Linked DNA regions of Homo sapiens: regions 1 and 2 are each linked to region 3. Evidence: fine-mapped expression QTL. A gene starts in region 3. Each other region holds a variant in brackets. All regions are shown on one strand. Distances are between the middles of the regions. Region 1 overlaps PATL2 (PAT1 homolog 2). Region 2 overlaps PATL2 (PAT1 homolog 2). Region 3 holds the start of PATL2 (PAT1 homolog 2).

Region 1 (5,225 bases), 24 kb before region 3:
GCAAAAACATACCAAATTGTAAAGACCATCAACACTATGAAGAAACTGTGTCAACTAACGGGCAAAATAACCGGCTAGCATCATAATGACAGGATCAAATTCACACATAACAATATTAACCTTAAATGTAAACAGGCTAAATGCCCCAATTAAAAGACACAGACTGGCAAACTGGATAAAAAGTCAAGACCCTGCCAGGCACGGTGGCTCACGCCTGTAATCCCATCACTTTGGGAGGCCAAGGCGGGTGGATCACGAGGTCAAGAGATTGAGACCATCCTGGCCAACATGGTGAAACCCCATCTCTATTAAAAATACAAAAAATTAGCTGGGCCTGGTGGCACACACCTGTAATCCCAGCTACTTGGGAGGCTGAGGCAGGAGAATTGCTTGAACCCAGGAGGCAGAGGTTGCAGTGAGCTGAGATTGCGCCTTTGCATTCCAGCCTGGGCAACAGAGTGAGACTCTGTCTCAAAAAAAAAAAAAGAAAAAAATCAAGACCCATCAGTGTGCTGTATTCAGGAGACCCATCTCATGTGCAAAGACACACATAGGTTCAAAATAAAGGGATGGAGGAATATTTACCAAGGAAATGGAAAGCAAATAAAGCAGGGGTTGCAATCCTAGTCCCAGATAAAACAGACTTTAAACCAACAAAGATCAAAAGAGACAAAGAAGGGCATTACATAATGGTAAAGGGATCAATGCAGCAAGAAGAGCTAACTATCCTAAATATATATGCACCCAATACAGGAGCACCCAGATTCATAAAGCAAGTTCTTAGAGACCTACAAAGAGACTTAGACTCCCACACAATAATAGTGGGAGACTTTAACACCCCACTGTCAATATTAGACAGATCAACGAGACAGAAAATTAACAAGGATATTCAGGACTTGAACTCAGCTCTGGACCAAGTGGACCTAATAGACATCTACAGAACTCTCCACCCCAAATCAACAGCATATACATTCTTCTCAGCACCACATCGCACTTGTTCTAAAATTGACCACATAATTGGAAGTAAAACACTCCTCAGCAAATGCAAAAGAACGGAAATCATAAAAAACAGTCTCTCAGACCACAGTGCAATCAAATTAGAACTCAGGATTAAGAAACTCACTCAAAACTGCAAAACTACATGGAAACTGAACAACCTGCTCCTGAATGACTACTGGGTAAATAACAATATTAAGGCAGAAATAAATAAGTTCTTTGAAACCAATGAGAACAAAGACACAACGTACCAGCATCTCTGGGCCACATTTAAAGCAGTGTTTAAAGGGAAAGTTATAGAACTAAATGCCCACAAGAGGAAGTAGGAAAGATCTAAAATTGACACCTTAACATCACAATTAAAAGAACTAGAGAAATAAGAGCAAACAAATTCAAAAGCTAGCAGAAGACAAGAAATAACTAAGATCAGAGCTGAACTGAAGGAGACAGAGACATGAAAAACCCTTCAAAAAATCAGTGAATCCAGCAGCTGTTTTTTTGAAAAGATCAATAAAATAGACAACTAGCCATACTAATAAAGAAGAAAAGAGAGAAGAATAAAATAGACACAATAAAAAATGATAAAGGGGATATCACCACTGATCCCACAGAAATACAAACTAGCATCAGAGAATACTATAAAAACCTCTATGCAAATAAACTAGAAAATCTAGAAGAAATGGATAAATTCCTGGACACATACACCCTCCCGAGACTAAACCAGGAAGAAGTTGAATCCCTGAATAGACCAATAACAAGTTCTGAAATTGAGGCAGTAATTAATAGCCTACTAATCAAAAAAGTCCAGGACCAGATGGACTCACAGCTGAATTCTACCAGAGGTACAATGAGGAGCTGGTACCATTCCTTCTGAAACTATTCCAAACAATAGAAAAAGAGGTAATCCTCCCTAACTCATTTGATGAGGCCAGCATCATCCTGATACCAAAACCTGGCAGAGACACAACAAAAAAAGAAAATTTCAAAGGTCAATATCCCTGATGAACATTGATGTGAAAGTCCTCAATAAAATACTGGCAAACCAAATCCAGCAGCACATCAAAAAGCTTATCCACCATGATCAAGTCAGCTTCATCCCTGGGATGCAAGGCTGGTTCAACATACACAAATCGATTAACGTAATCCATCACATAAATAGAACCAATGACAAAAACCACGTGATTATCTCAATAGATGCAGAAAAGGCCTTCAACAAAATTCAACACCCTTTCATGCTAAAAACTCTCAATAAACTAGGTATTGATGGAACGTATCTCAAAATAATAAGAGCTATTTATGACAAACACACAGCCAATATCATACTGAATGGGCAAAAACTGGAAGCATTCCCTTTGAAAACCAGCACAAGAAAAGGATGCCTTCTCTCACCACTCCTATTCAACATAGTATTGGAAGTTCTGGCCAGGGCAATCAGGCAAAAGAAAGAAATAAAGGGTATTCAAATAGGAAGAGAGGAAGTCAAATTGTCTCTGCTTGCAGATGACATGATTGTATATTTAGAAAACCCCATAGTCTCAGCCCAAAATCTCCTTAAGCTGATAAGCAATTTCAGCAGTCTCAGGCTACAAAATCAATGTGCAAAAATCACAAGCATTCCTATACACCAATAATAGACAGAGAGCAAAATCACGAGTGAACTCCCAGTCACAATTGCTACAAAGAGAATTAAGTACCTAGGAATCCAACTTACAAGTCATGTGAAGGACCTCTTCAAGGAGAACTACAAACCACTCCTCAAGGAAATAAGAGAGGACACAAAGAAGTGGAAAATCATTCCATGCTCATGGATAGGAAGAATCAATATCGTGAAAATGGCCAAAGTAATTTATAGATTCTCTGCTATCCCAGCACTTTAGGAGGCCAAG[G/A]CAGGCAGATCACGAGGTCAGGAGATTGAGACCATCCTGGCTAACACAGTGAAAACCATCTCTACTAAAAATACAAAAAATTAGCCAGGTGTGGTGGCGGGTGCCTGCAGCCCCAGCTACTTGGGAGGCTGAGGCAGGCGAATGGCGTGAACCCGGGAGGCAGAGCTTGCAGTGAGCCAAGATCATGCCACTGCACTCCAGCCTGGGTGACAGAGCGAGACTCTGTCTCAAAAAAAAAAAAAAAAACTAGCTAAATAATAATAATAATAAAAAAAATGCTATCCCCATCAAGCTACCATTTACTTTCTTCACAGAATTAGAAAAAACTACTTTAAATTTCATATGGAACCAAAAAAGAGCCCGCATAGCCAAGACAATCCTAAGCAAAAACAAACAAACAAACAAACAAAGCTGGAGGCACCATGCTACCTGACTTCAAACTATACTACAAGGCTACAGTAACCAGAACAGCATGGCACTGGTATCAAAACAGATATATCGACCAATGGAACTGAACAGAGGCCTCAGAAATAACACCACACATCTACAACCATCTGATCTTTCACAAACCTGACAAAAACAAGCAGTGGGGGAAAGGATTCCCTATTTAATGAATGGTGTTGGGAAGACTGGCTATCCATATGCAGAAAACTGAAACTGGACCCCTTCCTTACACTTTATACAAAAATTAACTCAAGATGGATTAAAGACTTAAATGTAAGATTGAAAACCATAAAAACCCCAGAAGAAAACCTAGGCAATACCATTCAGGACATAGGAGTGGGCAAAGACTTCATGACTAAAACAATAAAAGCAATGGCAACAAAAGCCAAAATTGACAAGTGGTATCTAATTAAACTAAAGAGCTTCTGCACAGCAAAAGAAACTGTCATCAGAGTGAATGGGCAACCTACAGAATGGGAGAAAATGTTTGCAATCTATCCATCTGACAAAGGGCTAATATCCAGAATCTACAAAGAACTTAAACAAATGTACAAGAAAAAAGCAAACAACCCCATCAAAAAGTGGGCAAAGGATATGAACAAACACTTCTCAAAAGAAGACATTTATGCAGCCAACAAACATATGAAAAAAAGCTCATCAACATTGGTCATTAGAGAAATGCAAATCAAAACCACAAAGAGATACCAACTCATGCCAGTTAGAATGGTGATCATTAAAAAGTCAGGAAACAACAGATGCTGGGAGGATGTGGAGAAATAAGAATGCTTTTACACTGTTGGTGGAAGTGTAAATTAGTTCAACCATTGTGGAAGACAGTGTGGTGATTCCTTAAGGATCTAGAACCAGAAATACCATTTGACCCAACAATCCAATTACTGGGTACATACCCAAAGGATTATAAATCATGCTGCTATAAAGACACATGCACAGCTATGTTTACTGCAGCACCGTTCACAACAGCAAAGACTTGGAACCAACCCAAATGCCCATTAATGATAGCCTGGATAACGAACATGTGGCACATATACACCATGGAATACTATGCAGCCATGAAAAAGGATGAGTTCATGTCCTTTGCAGGGACATGGATGAAGCTGGAAACCACCATTCTCAGCAAACTAACACAAGAACAGAAAACCAAATACTGCATGCTCTCACTCATAAGTGGGAGTTGAACAATGAGAACACATGGACACAGGGAGGGGAACATCACACACCAGGGCCTGTTGTGGGGTGGGGGACTAGGGGAGGGATACCATTAGGAGAAATACCTAATGTAGATGACTGGTTGATGGGTGCAGCAAACCACCATGGCACATGTATACCTATGTAACAAACCTGCATGTTCTGCACATGTACCCCAGAACTTAAAGTATAATAATAAGAAGAAAATCTCAAAAATACTAAAAGAAAATATATGAATGTTGGCCAAGCATGGTGTCTCACACCTGTAATCCCAGCACTTTGGGAGGCCGAGGTGGGCGGATCACCTGAGGTCAGGAGTTCGAGACTAGCCTGACCAACATGGAGAAACCCCATCTCTACTAAAAATACAAAATTAGCCAGGCATGGTGGCACATGCCTGTAATCCCAGCTACTCGGGAGGCTGAGGCAGGAGAATCGCTTGAACATGGGAGGCGGAGGTTGCCATGAGCTGAGATAGCGCCATTGCACTCCAGCCTGGGCAACAAGAGCGAAACTCCGTCTCAAAAAAAAGTGAGTGTTTTCTAAATGTAAAGACGGACCTTCTAACTATCACCCCAAATCCATAGGCTATGAAGGGTGGCTGACAAATTTGTCTACAAAAAAATTTAAGATTGCTGAGTGGCAAATATAAAACCACAAATAAAGTCAAAATATTTTTTTTTTTTTTTTGAG
Region 2 (5,225 bases), 35 kb before region 3:
CAAATGGCCAGTTGTCCCAGTACCACTTATTAAGGTGTCTATCCATGCCCCTGCTTGGGCACACCACCTCTGTCATTTATCAAGCTCCTCTATGATGGGGCAACTCCCACCTCCCACACCCATACCTCACTTTGGGTGCCTTAACTCCAGACCAGGGTTGGGGGTAGACTGAACATAATAGATGGAATCCTCACTACCCACAGTATGGAGACTGCAGCAGACTCACCTGCCACAGAAAATGCAAGGAGGCAAGTGACATTCCCAGCATACCAGGGGCCTTGACTCCAGGGGAGCTAAGCAGAGCTCTCTGGAACAGGAGGGAGGAAAAACCAGGCTCAAATGGGCCCCTGTAGTGTCTTCTGCATTCACCTGTGTTTTTGAGGTGGTGGGAGGAAGCAGCAAGACCAGGTGTTCCAACATCCAGGGCAGTGGCAGCTTGGCCCTCCCTCAGATTCAAAGTCAGCTGGGCCAGGATCCCTCTCCCTCTCCTGGGAGGAATAAGACTAGTGCAGTGGTCCTCCCTTATTCATGAGACATATATGTTCCGAGACCCCCAAGGGATGCCTAGAACTGGATAGTACTAAACCCTGTGTATAGTGCTTTTTTCTTATATATACATGCCTATGATAGTTTATATATATATTTAAAAAAAATTTTTTTTAGAGTCAGGGTCTTGCTCTGTCACCCAGGCTGGAGTGCAGTGGCACCATCATAGCTCACTGCAGGCTCAAACTCCTGAGCTCAAGCCATCCTCCTGCCTCAGACTTCTAAGTAGCTGAGACTACAGGCATGTGCTACCATATCTGGCTAATTTTTGAAAATTTTTTTTCTTTTTTTTTGTAGCGACAGGGTCTTGCTTTGTTGCCCAGGCTGGTGTGGAAGTCCTGGCCTCTAGCAACCCTCCCAAAGTGCTGGGATTACAGACATAAGCCACTGCCCCTGGCCAGTTTAATTTAAGAATTAGACACAATAAGAAATGAACAATAAAAATAGAACAGTTATAACAATATACTGTAATAAAAGTTATGTGAATGTGGTCTCTCTTAAAATACCTTATTGTACTATACTTGCCTATTTTCAGACTATAGTTGACCAAGGGTAACTGAAATGGCAGAAAGTGAAACCATGGACTACTGTACCTTAGTAGTAGGTTGAAGGAAGTTCTGAAATCACCTCATATCTACATAGGAGTCCTTGTCCTTCTCCACTAGTTATGGGATCCAGGGGAATAAATACCAGGAATGGACTACTGAGACAGAGGGGCCCAGGATCAGGCAAACGTGACTCACCTTTAACGCTAGTAGCAGGGCCACCGCCTGTGGGCGATGCACAGCTCTGCTAGGACCTGGTTTTAAGGCGAGAACAGCATCAGAAATGAAGTGGGAGACAGGAGAAAGAGGGAAGGAGAGAGTCCCTAACTCAAGTTCAAGGCTTAAAAAGAAAGTGTTAATCCAGAACTTGTCTTAGAAAAGGGTAGAAAAGAGAAGAGGAATGTTTAGTGACAGCCTGTGAGCCACAGACAGTTCAGGACAACCCTCTCCCATTCCCTTCTGCCATGGTACCTGGGTGTTGTGGACAGCACCAAGTACAGCTGGATCCCCAAGATCATTCTCTTCCTCCTCTAGGTCTGGGTCCAGATCTGGGTCCAGATCCTCCTCGTCCTCCTCCTCTTCCTCCTCCTCCCCTTCATTCTCTTCTTCTTTTTCCAACTGGCAGGCAGACACCAGCTCCTCCTCAGAAGCCAAGGGGCCACAGGTCTTACCTGGCCCTTGGTTTAAGTGTGGGCCAGAGGAGAAGGTAAGATGGGGCTCAGCTGTGAGTCTTGTCTAGAGAGGCTGCTACTCAATAGCACTTCTGTTCATAAGCCATCTCCAGCACCACCTTTGAACATAACGCCTCCTGTTCTGTGGGTTTAACTCGGCCTCCCTTCTCCCAAGGTGCCCCGAACCATCCCCCAGTAAGTCAAATGGAACCTGAGCCAGGTGTGGTGGCTCGTGCCTGTAGTCCCAGTTACTTGGGAGGCCAAGGCGGGAAGATCATTTGGGCCCAGGAGTTTGAGATCAGCCTGGGCAACACAGTGAGACCCTGTCTCTAAGTAAAAAATTTAAAAAGCAAACAAAAGGAACCCGGCAGATACCAAACACCTTCACTTTCACATCCCCTCTTCAATTCCTTCATTAAGTTCTAGCACAGCCTTTTCCATCTGCTCTGCCCCACCCAACGCCCTTTCTATTGCCTCTTTGAACAAGTTCCACCTGCCCTGACTCACTGCAATTTAACCCTACTGTGTGCCATATACTTTACGTGCATATGTTCATTTAACAGTAATATGAGGCTGTCCTGGGTTGTTGTTGATAATTTTACTAGGTTGGTGAGAAAAATAAAGCCCAGAAGAGTGACCTTTCAGTCACCCATTATGATATAATTAGCAAGTGGAAGAATTTGGAATAACTTCCAGTGACTCTGGACATCCAATCCCATATGTGAAACAGACCAGCAACCTCTGCATGCTGGGGCATTTTATATAACATCACGGCCCACTTGTTGATACCTTCAAGGCAATTCATCTTGGCAGGCTGGTGGACTTCCTTCTTAGCCGTGTCCTCCAGTGAAACAGCATTGCCAGCCTCTGGAAGGTAAACCTGAGACAAGAAAGAGGCCAAGAGGCACCATCCTCAGTCAGTAAGGATGACATGGCACCCTAAAACAGCCATGGAATCCTCCCAGCAAGATGGTTAGAGAATTCTTGGCCATGGTCTTGAGGAGAGAGACCCTGGGGTCTCAGACTGCCATAAACACCCACCCTCCCAGCTCGGCTCTAGGGAGCTGTCCCACAAAGGGACAGAAATGAGGCACAGGCTAGAAGCAGGAAGAGAAGTACTTCCCAACCGACATCACCAGTCACCGTCCGAGTGTGGTGATGCCTTGCTGCCGACACCCACCACCTGACTGTTGCTGTCCTTTCTGTTTAAGTTATTCATAGCAGCCTGGGCCAGGACCTGTTTGCC[G/A]CTCCTGGCTTTAAAAGTCCCAGCTCCTCCCCTGCTCACCCATTAAAGGGCTAGCATCCTCCATCCATTGGGGCCTGATGGAAATATGAGAACATAGTTTAATGATTAAAAAAACGCTTGAATGGAGAAAAGACATAAACTGCATTTTTAGCCATCCATGGCTTTTAGTACAGTTTATTGGGATTGATATTTGGGGGCAGATAGTTAAAAAGAGGATCCCTGTTTTCCACACCCTTCATTGGTAGTTTGTGAGGTTGCATTTAATTTAATCCCTAGGTTTTGCTTCAACAAAATTGGATAGGAAAGTCCTGGGTAGATCCTGGGGAGGATGCCTAGCAACCACATTCCTGGCGCTTCAGGGCAGCGTACTTGAAGCCCTCAAGTCCACCTGATGATGCTTGCCCTTCACCGGGTCATGTGAGCTTAAGTCAGCTACTCAGCTCTGACTGATGAGAGACCCCTGTGAATTTGGAAGTCAGATCTTCATGGTAAAAACACTTTTGCATGAGATACACAGTCTTACATCTTCTTGGCTGCTCTAATGGCAAACTGGTCCAGAAGCTCAGGAGTAAAAACAAATCAACAACAACAAAAACAAAAACATAGCTGCTCCTGGTAGGCAAAACCCAACACCCTCCCAAGTCTCATCTAACCCTCAAGCAACCCTGGGTTCTGTGCCCACATCCTGTGTTCAGCTGAAACCCACATGACTTTGTAGAACTTCTGAATAAGAATAAAAACTAAGTTAATTTCCCTACATCAAAAATGAAAGTTAGGACCCTCTTGTCATGGTGATAAGACCATGATTCTTGGTGCCTTTAAAGGAAAATATTTGTTTCAGAAGTTTTACTGCAGGTCATAACTATATGGGTGGGGGAACAAATATAAGTAGCTTGAAAGTTACTGAAAAACTTCTCATATATCTTGAGATAGCATCTTACTCTGTCACCCAGGCTTGAGTGCAGTGGCATGATCTTGGCCCACTGCAGCCTCCACCTCCCGGGTTCAAGATTCTCCTGCCTCAGCCTCCCGAGTAGCTGGGATTACAGGCGGCCACCACCATGCCCAGCTAATTTTTGTATATATATATATTTTTTTTCAGTAGAAACAGGGTTTCGCCATGTTGGCCAGGCTTGTCTCAAACTCCTGACCTCAAGTAATCCACCTGCCTTGGCCTCCCAAAGGGCTGGGATTACAAGCACAAGCCACCACACCCAGCTGGGTTCTGGCCTTTTTGGTAATGTTATTCAGCTGTTTCTCTCAGGAACTTCCTAATAACGTACTTTAGCACTATTAACAAAAGGACCACATGGTGAATTTCAGTGTTCCAGAGGTGATTCATTAGGTTGTTGTAGAGACTAGATCTTAAGGAGAAACTTGTTGCATGAAGATTTTCATTCTGAAGGGACTTCTGGTACTGACTAGTACCAAAGCAGGTGGACTAGGGCTCAGTCTTAAAGATCACAGCCCTGCCCTGGCTGTTTGGAGTTTCACTTGGGACCTACTGTTTTTTATGAAGGTCCCCTACCCTTATCTGAAGTCTCATATGTCTACTGATCCCCTAGATGTTCTAACTTTCCTGCCATCATTTCATTATGTTAAGTTCAAGCCAAGCCTATGTTAGGCTTGGGGTAAACAGTGAATAAAGCAGATGCTTCCCACAGCCTGTTAGAGCTTCTTCTAGAATAAGAAGTACACACAGGTACACAGGATTGTTGGGTCAGATTTTAAAAAGACATTAGAGTGGCTCATACCTGTAATCCCAGCACTTTGGGAAGCTGAGGCAGGAGGATAGCTTGAGCCCATGAGTTCAAGACAAGCCTGGACAACATAGTGAGACCCCATCTCTATTAAAAATTTTTTCTTAAAGAAAAAAAATGACATTAGAAATATTTACATTTGCTACATAAAACACTCTTTTATGGGGAGATTTTTTATCCATTGTTTCAGGTTCTTTAATAGCAGTAGATCTAGTCTGGCTTTCAATTTCTTCTTGAGTTTTAAGTTATATATCTTCTAGGAATTTGTCCATTACTTATAAATTTTCAAATTTGTTGGCATAAAGTTGTTCATAGTATAAGTGTATTTAAAAATCCATGCTATAACTGTACTTTGTCTCTCCTGCCCCCTTTCATTTACTTGTTTATTTTGAGACAGAGTCTTGCCTGTCACTCAGGCTGGAGTGCATTGGCACGATCTCAACTCACTGCAACCTCC
Region 3 (5,218 bases):
CCTGCCACCATGCCTAGCTAATTTTTGTATTTTTAGTAGAGACAGGGTTTCACCATGTTGGCCAGGCTGGTCTCAAACTCCTGATCTCAAGTGATCTGCCCGCCTTGACCTCCCAAAGTGCTCAGATTACAGGTGTGAGCCACCACATCCAGCCCCAAATTGTTTATACCATTTTATATTCCTACCAGGATTGTATGAGAGTTCCAGTTCTTCTAAATTCTTGCCAACATTTACTACTTTGAATAAATGTTCATTGTAAAAAAATTTTAAGAGGGTTATATAGGGGAAAAAAAGGCCGCTATTAATCTGTTAATTGCACTACTGGGAGATAAAGCTATTAAACTGTCATATTTGTGGCTGGGCGTGGTAACACATGCTTGTGATCCTAGCACTTTAGGAGGCTGGGGAAGGAGGATCACTTGAGACCAGGAGTTCGAGACCAGCCTGGGCAACACAGCAAGACTCTGTCTCCACAAAAATATTAAAAATTAAAAAAAAAAGAAATTGTCATGTTTGTAGACTTCCCAAATTTGCCATCCTAGGCAAACAGTGCTCTTGTTTTTAAACAAATAGTTGTATACATAATTTTCCCCCTCACTATTCAAAACATGTCATAAATGGTAAGTCCAAGAAAAATACAGGTATTCCCCCCCAAAGAAAACTGTAAAATCGACTTTTTTCTATCTGTACTGTTTTTTATTGGTTTTTAAATTGGTTTTCCAAGTGAGTAAATCAGAATCTATCTGTAATGGATTTTAAATTTAGTGTTTCTCTGTGATGTAGTAAACAAGAAACTAGAGGCAAAAATAGCCCTGTCCCTTGCTAAACTTCTAAGGCACTTTTCTAGTACAACTCAACACTAACATTTCAGGCCTTTAGTGCCTTATATGAGTTTTTAAAAGGGGGAAAAGGGAGGGAGCAAGAGTGTCTTAACTCATACATTTAGGCATAACAATTATTCTCATATTTTAGTTATTGAGAGGGCTGGTAGAAAAACTAGGTAAATAATATTAATAATTATAGCGCTTATTAAACACTACAGAACACTTACTATGTACCAGGCATTGTGGGAGGCTCTCTCTTGTGCATTATCTCATTTCATTAGGTCCATGGAGAGTATTGCATTTTCTTAGTTTAGGCATGGCCTCCACAATAAAGATTATCAAAAGCCTAAAAATATGTAAAAGAAACCTAGAAGTTATTTGTTGTGCTCCTTGGGGAAGCTAGGCAAATCCTTTCAACTGAAAACCATGGTGACTTCCAAGATCTCTGCCCCTCCCCATCGCCATGGTCCACTTCCTCTTCTCACTGTTCCTCTTAGAAAAGATCTGTGGACTCCACCACCACGAAATGGCGGCACCTTATTTATGGTCACTTTAGAGGGTAGGTTTTCTTAATGGGTCTGCCTGTCATGTTTAACGTCCTTGGCTGGGTCCAAGGCAGATGCAGTCCAAACTCTCACTAAAATTGCCGAGCCCTTTGTCTTCCAGTGTCTAAAATATTAATGTCAATGGAATCAGGCCAGAGTTTGAATTCTAGTCTCTTAGCCTTTGTTTCCCCTGTCCATAAAATGAATGGGGGTAATTCTTTCCTCCTACAGTTTATTTATATATTCACTAATTCATTCATTCATCCATCCATTCGTTCATTCGGTTTACTGAGTACCTACTATGTGCCAGCCCCTGTTCTAGGGTGGAAACTAAGAGAATGATGTACCTAGAGGGCGCTGGAAGCTCTAAAGCCCTAGCAGTTACTGCTTTTACTATTAGTGGTCGTTTTTTTCTCCCCCCCGCCCCCCGACAAATCAACAGAACAAAGAAAATTACCTAAACAGCAAGGACATAGGGAGGAACTTCTTGGCACAGAACTTTCCAAACACTTTTTCCTGAAGGGATACAAGAAGCAAGAAAGGTACTCTTTCACTAGGACCTTCTCTGAGCTGTCCTCAGGATGCTTTTGGGACTATTTTTCTTACCCAGAGAATGGAGAAACCCTGCAGGGAATTCCCAAGCTGTAGTTATAAACAGAAGTTCTCCTTCTGCTAGGTAGCATTCAAAGATCTTAATCTTCTGGGTTTCCGTTTTCTCGAATGAAAAATGCAGGTCCGAGCAGTTAACTGGCTGGGGCACCATTAGCAAGTCACTTAGCATCTCTGGGGCCAGTCTGCAAAGCGAGGGGGCAGCCTTAATGTGCCTCCAGCCTGAAGTCCTAGAATGAGCGCCCGGTGTCCCAAGCTGGGGCGCGCACCCCAGATCGGAGGGCGCCGATGTACAGACAGCAAACTCACCCAGTCTAGTGCATGCCTTCTTAAACATCACGAGACTCTAAGAAAAGGAAACTGAAAACGGGAAAGTCCCTCTCTCTAACCTGGCACTGCGTCGCTGGCTTGGAGACAGGTGACGGTCCCTGCGGGCCTTGTCCTGATTGGCTGGGCACGCGTTTAATATAAGTGGAGGCGTCGCGCTGGCGGGCATTCCTGAAGCTGACAGCATTCGGGCCGAGATGTCTCGCTCCGTGGCCTTAGCTGTGCTCGCGCTACTCTCTCTTTCTGGCCTGGAGGCTATCCAGCGTGAGTCTCTCCTACCCTCCCGCTCTGGTCCTTCCTCTCCCGCTCTGCACCCTCTGTGGCCCTCGCTGTGCTCTCTCGCTCCGTGACTTCCCTTCTCCAAGTTCTCCTTGGTGGCCCGCCGTGGGGCTAGTCCAGGGCTGGATCTCGGGGAAGCGGCGGGGTGGCCTGGGAGTGGGGAAGGGGGTGCGCACCCGGGACGCGCGCTACTTGCCCCTTTCGGCGGGGAGCAGGGGAGACCTTTGGCCTACGGCGACGGGAGGGTCGGGACAAAGTTTAGGGCGTCGATAAGCGTCAGAGCGCCGAGGTTGGGGGAGGGTTTCTCTTCCGCTCTTTCGCGGGGCCTCTGGCTCCCCCAGCGCAGCTGGAGTGGGGGACGGGTAGGCTCGTCCCAAAGGCGCGGCGCTGAGGTTTGTGAACGCGTGGAGGGGCGCTTGGGGTCTGGGGGAGGCGTCGCCCGGGTAAGCCTGTCTGCTGCGGCTCTGCTTCCCTTAGACTGGAGAGCTGTGGACTTCGTCTAGGCGCCCGCTAAGTTCGCATGTCCTAGCACCTCTGGGTCTATGTGGGGCCACACCGTGGGGAGGAAACAGCACGCGACGTTTGTAGAATGCTTGGCTGTGATACAAAGCGGTTTCGAATAATTAACTTATTTGTTCCCATCACATGTCACTTTTAAAAAATTATAAGAACTACCCGTTATTGACATCTTTCTGTGTGCCAAGGACTTTATGTGCTTTGCGTCATTTAATTTTGAAAACAGTTATCTTCCGCCATAGATAACTACTATGGTTATCTTCTGCCTCTCACAGATGAAGAAACTAAGGCACCGAGATTTTAAGAAACTTAATTACACAGGGGATAAATGGCAGCAATCGAGATTGAAGTCAAGCCTAACCAGGGCTTTTGCGGGAGCGCATGCCTTTTGGCTGTAATTCGTGCATTTTTTTTTAAGAAAAACGCCTGCCTTCTGCGTGAGATTCTCCAGAGCAAACTGGGCGGCATGGGCCCTGTGGTCTTTTCGTACAGAGGGCTTCCTCTTTGGCTCTTTGCCTGGTTGTTTCCAAGATGTACTGTGCCTCTTACTTTCGGTTTTGAAAACATGAGGGGGTTGGGCGTGGTAGCTTACGCCTGTAATCCCAGCACTTAGGGAGGCCGAGGCGGGAGGATGGCTTGAGGTCCGTAGTTGAGACCAGCCTGGCCAACATGGTGAAGCCTGGTCTCTACAAAAAATAATAACAAAAATTAGCCGGGTGTGGTGGCTCGTGCCTGTGGTCCCAGCTGCTCCGGTGGCTGAGGCGGGAGGATCTCTTGAGCTTAGGCTTTTGAGCTATCATGGCGCCAGTGCACTCCAGCGTGGGCAACAGAGCGAGACCCTGTCTCTCAAAAAAGAAAAAAAAAAAAAAAGAAAGAGAAAAGAAAAGAAAGAAAGAAGTGAAGGTTTGTCAGTCAGGGGAGCTGTAAAACCATTAATAAAGATAATCCAAGATGGTTACCAAGACTGTTGAGGACGCCAGAGATCTTGAGCACTTTCTAAGTACCTGGCAATACACTAAGCGCGCTCACCTTTTCCTCTGGCAAAACATGATCGAAAGCAGAATGTTTTGATCATGAGAAAATTGCATTTAATTTGAATACAATTTATTTACAACATAAAGGATAATGTATATATCACCACCATTACTGGTATTTGCTGGTTATGTTAGATGTCATTTTAAAAAATAACAATCTGATATTTAAAAAAAAATCTTATTTTGAAAATTTCCAAAGTAATACATGCCATGCATAGACCATTTCTGGAAGATACCACAAGAAACATGTAATGATGATTGCCTCTGAAGGTCTATTTTCCTCCTCTGACCTGTGTGTGGGTTTTGTTTTTGTTTTACTGTGGGCATAAATTAATTTTTCAGTTAAGTTTTGGAAGCTTAAATAACTCTCCAAAAGTCATAAAGCCAGTAACTGGTTGAGCCCAAATTCAAACCCAGCCTGTCTGATACTTGTCCTCTTCTTAGAAAAGATTACAGTGATGCTCTCACAAAATCTTGCCGCCTTCCCTCAAACAGAGAGTTCCAGGCAGGATGAATCTGTGCTCTGATCCCTGAGGCATTTAATATGTTCTTATTATTAGAAGCTCAGATGCAAAGAGCTCTCTTAGCTTTTAATGTTATGAAAAAAATCAGGTCTTCATTAGATTCCCCAATCCACCTCTTGATGGGGCTAGTAGCCTTTCCTTAATGATAGGGTGTTTCTAGAGAGATATATCTGGTCAAGGTGGCCTGGTACTCCTCCTTCTCCCCACAGCCTCCCAGACAAGGAGGAGTAGCTGCCTTTTAGTGATCATGTACCCTGAATATAAGTGTATTTAAAAGAATTTTATACACATATATTTAGTGTCAATCTGTATATTTAGTAGCACTAACACTTCTCTTCATTTTCAATGAAAAATATAGAGTTTATAATATTTTCTTCCCACTTCCCCATGGATGGTCTAGTCATGCCTCTCATTTTGGAAAGTACTGTTTCTGAAACATTAGGCAATATATTCCCAACCTGGCTAGTTTACAGCAATCACCTGTGGATGCTAATTAAAACGCAAATCCCACTGTCACATGCATTACTCCATTTGATCATAATGGAAAGTATGTTCTGTCC

Evidence for each region. PIP is the estimated chance that this variant, and not a neighbour inherited with it, causes the effect.
Region 1: its variant is the best candidate, but not a certain one, in a credible set for the expression of PATL2 in whole blood (TOPMed, PIP 0.52).
Region 2: its variant is the best candidate, but not a certain one, in a credible set for the expression of PATL2 in whole blood (TOPMed, PIP 0.60).

The regions. Positions count from the first base shown.
Region 1 is chr15:44,685,135-44,690,359 of GRCh38, forward strand. All of the region lies in intron 3 of PATL2 (PAT1 homolog 2), which reads right to left. Among named protein-coding and RNA genes, the nearest start is that of PATL2, 24 kb to the right of the region's middle. The variant G/A (reference allele first, on the strand shown) is at 2,883.
Region 2 is chr15:44,673,924-44,679,148 of GRCh38, forward strand. PATL2 (PAT1 homolog 2) reads right to left here. Exons shown (of 18, transcript NM_001387263.1): 4 at 2,552-2,642; 5 at 1,563-1,768; 6 at 227-307. The coding sequence starts at 2,567. Among named protein-coding and RNA genes, the nearest start is that of SPG11, 13 kb to the left of the region's middle. RefSeq lists an enhancer at 1,747-1,796. The variant G/A (reference allele first, on the strand shown) is at 3,009.
Region 3 is chr15:44,709,045-44,714,262 of GRCh38, forward strand. PATL2 (PAT1 homolog 2) reads right to left here and starts at 2,279. Exons shown (of 18, transcript NM_001387263.1): 1 at 1,976-2,279; 2 at 1,827-1,885; 3 at 1,052-1,170. It overlaps B2M (beta-2-microglobulin), which reads left to right and starts at 2,473. Exons shown (of 4, transcript NM_004048.4): 1 at 2,473-2,569. The coding sequence starts at 2,503. RefSeq lists an enhancer at 2,294-2,956.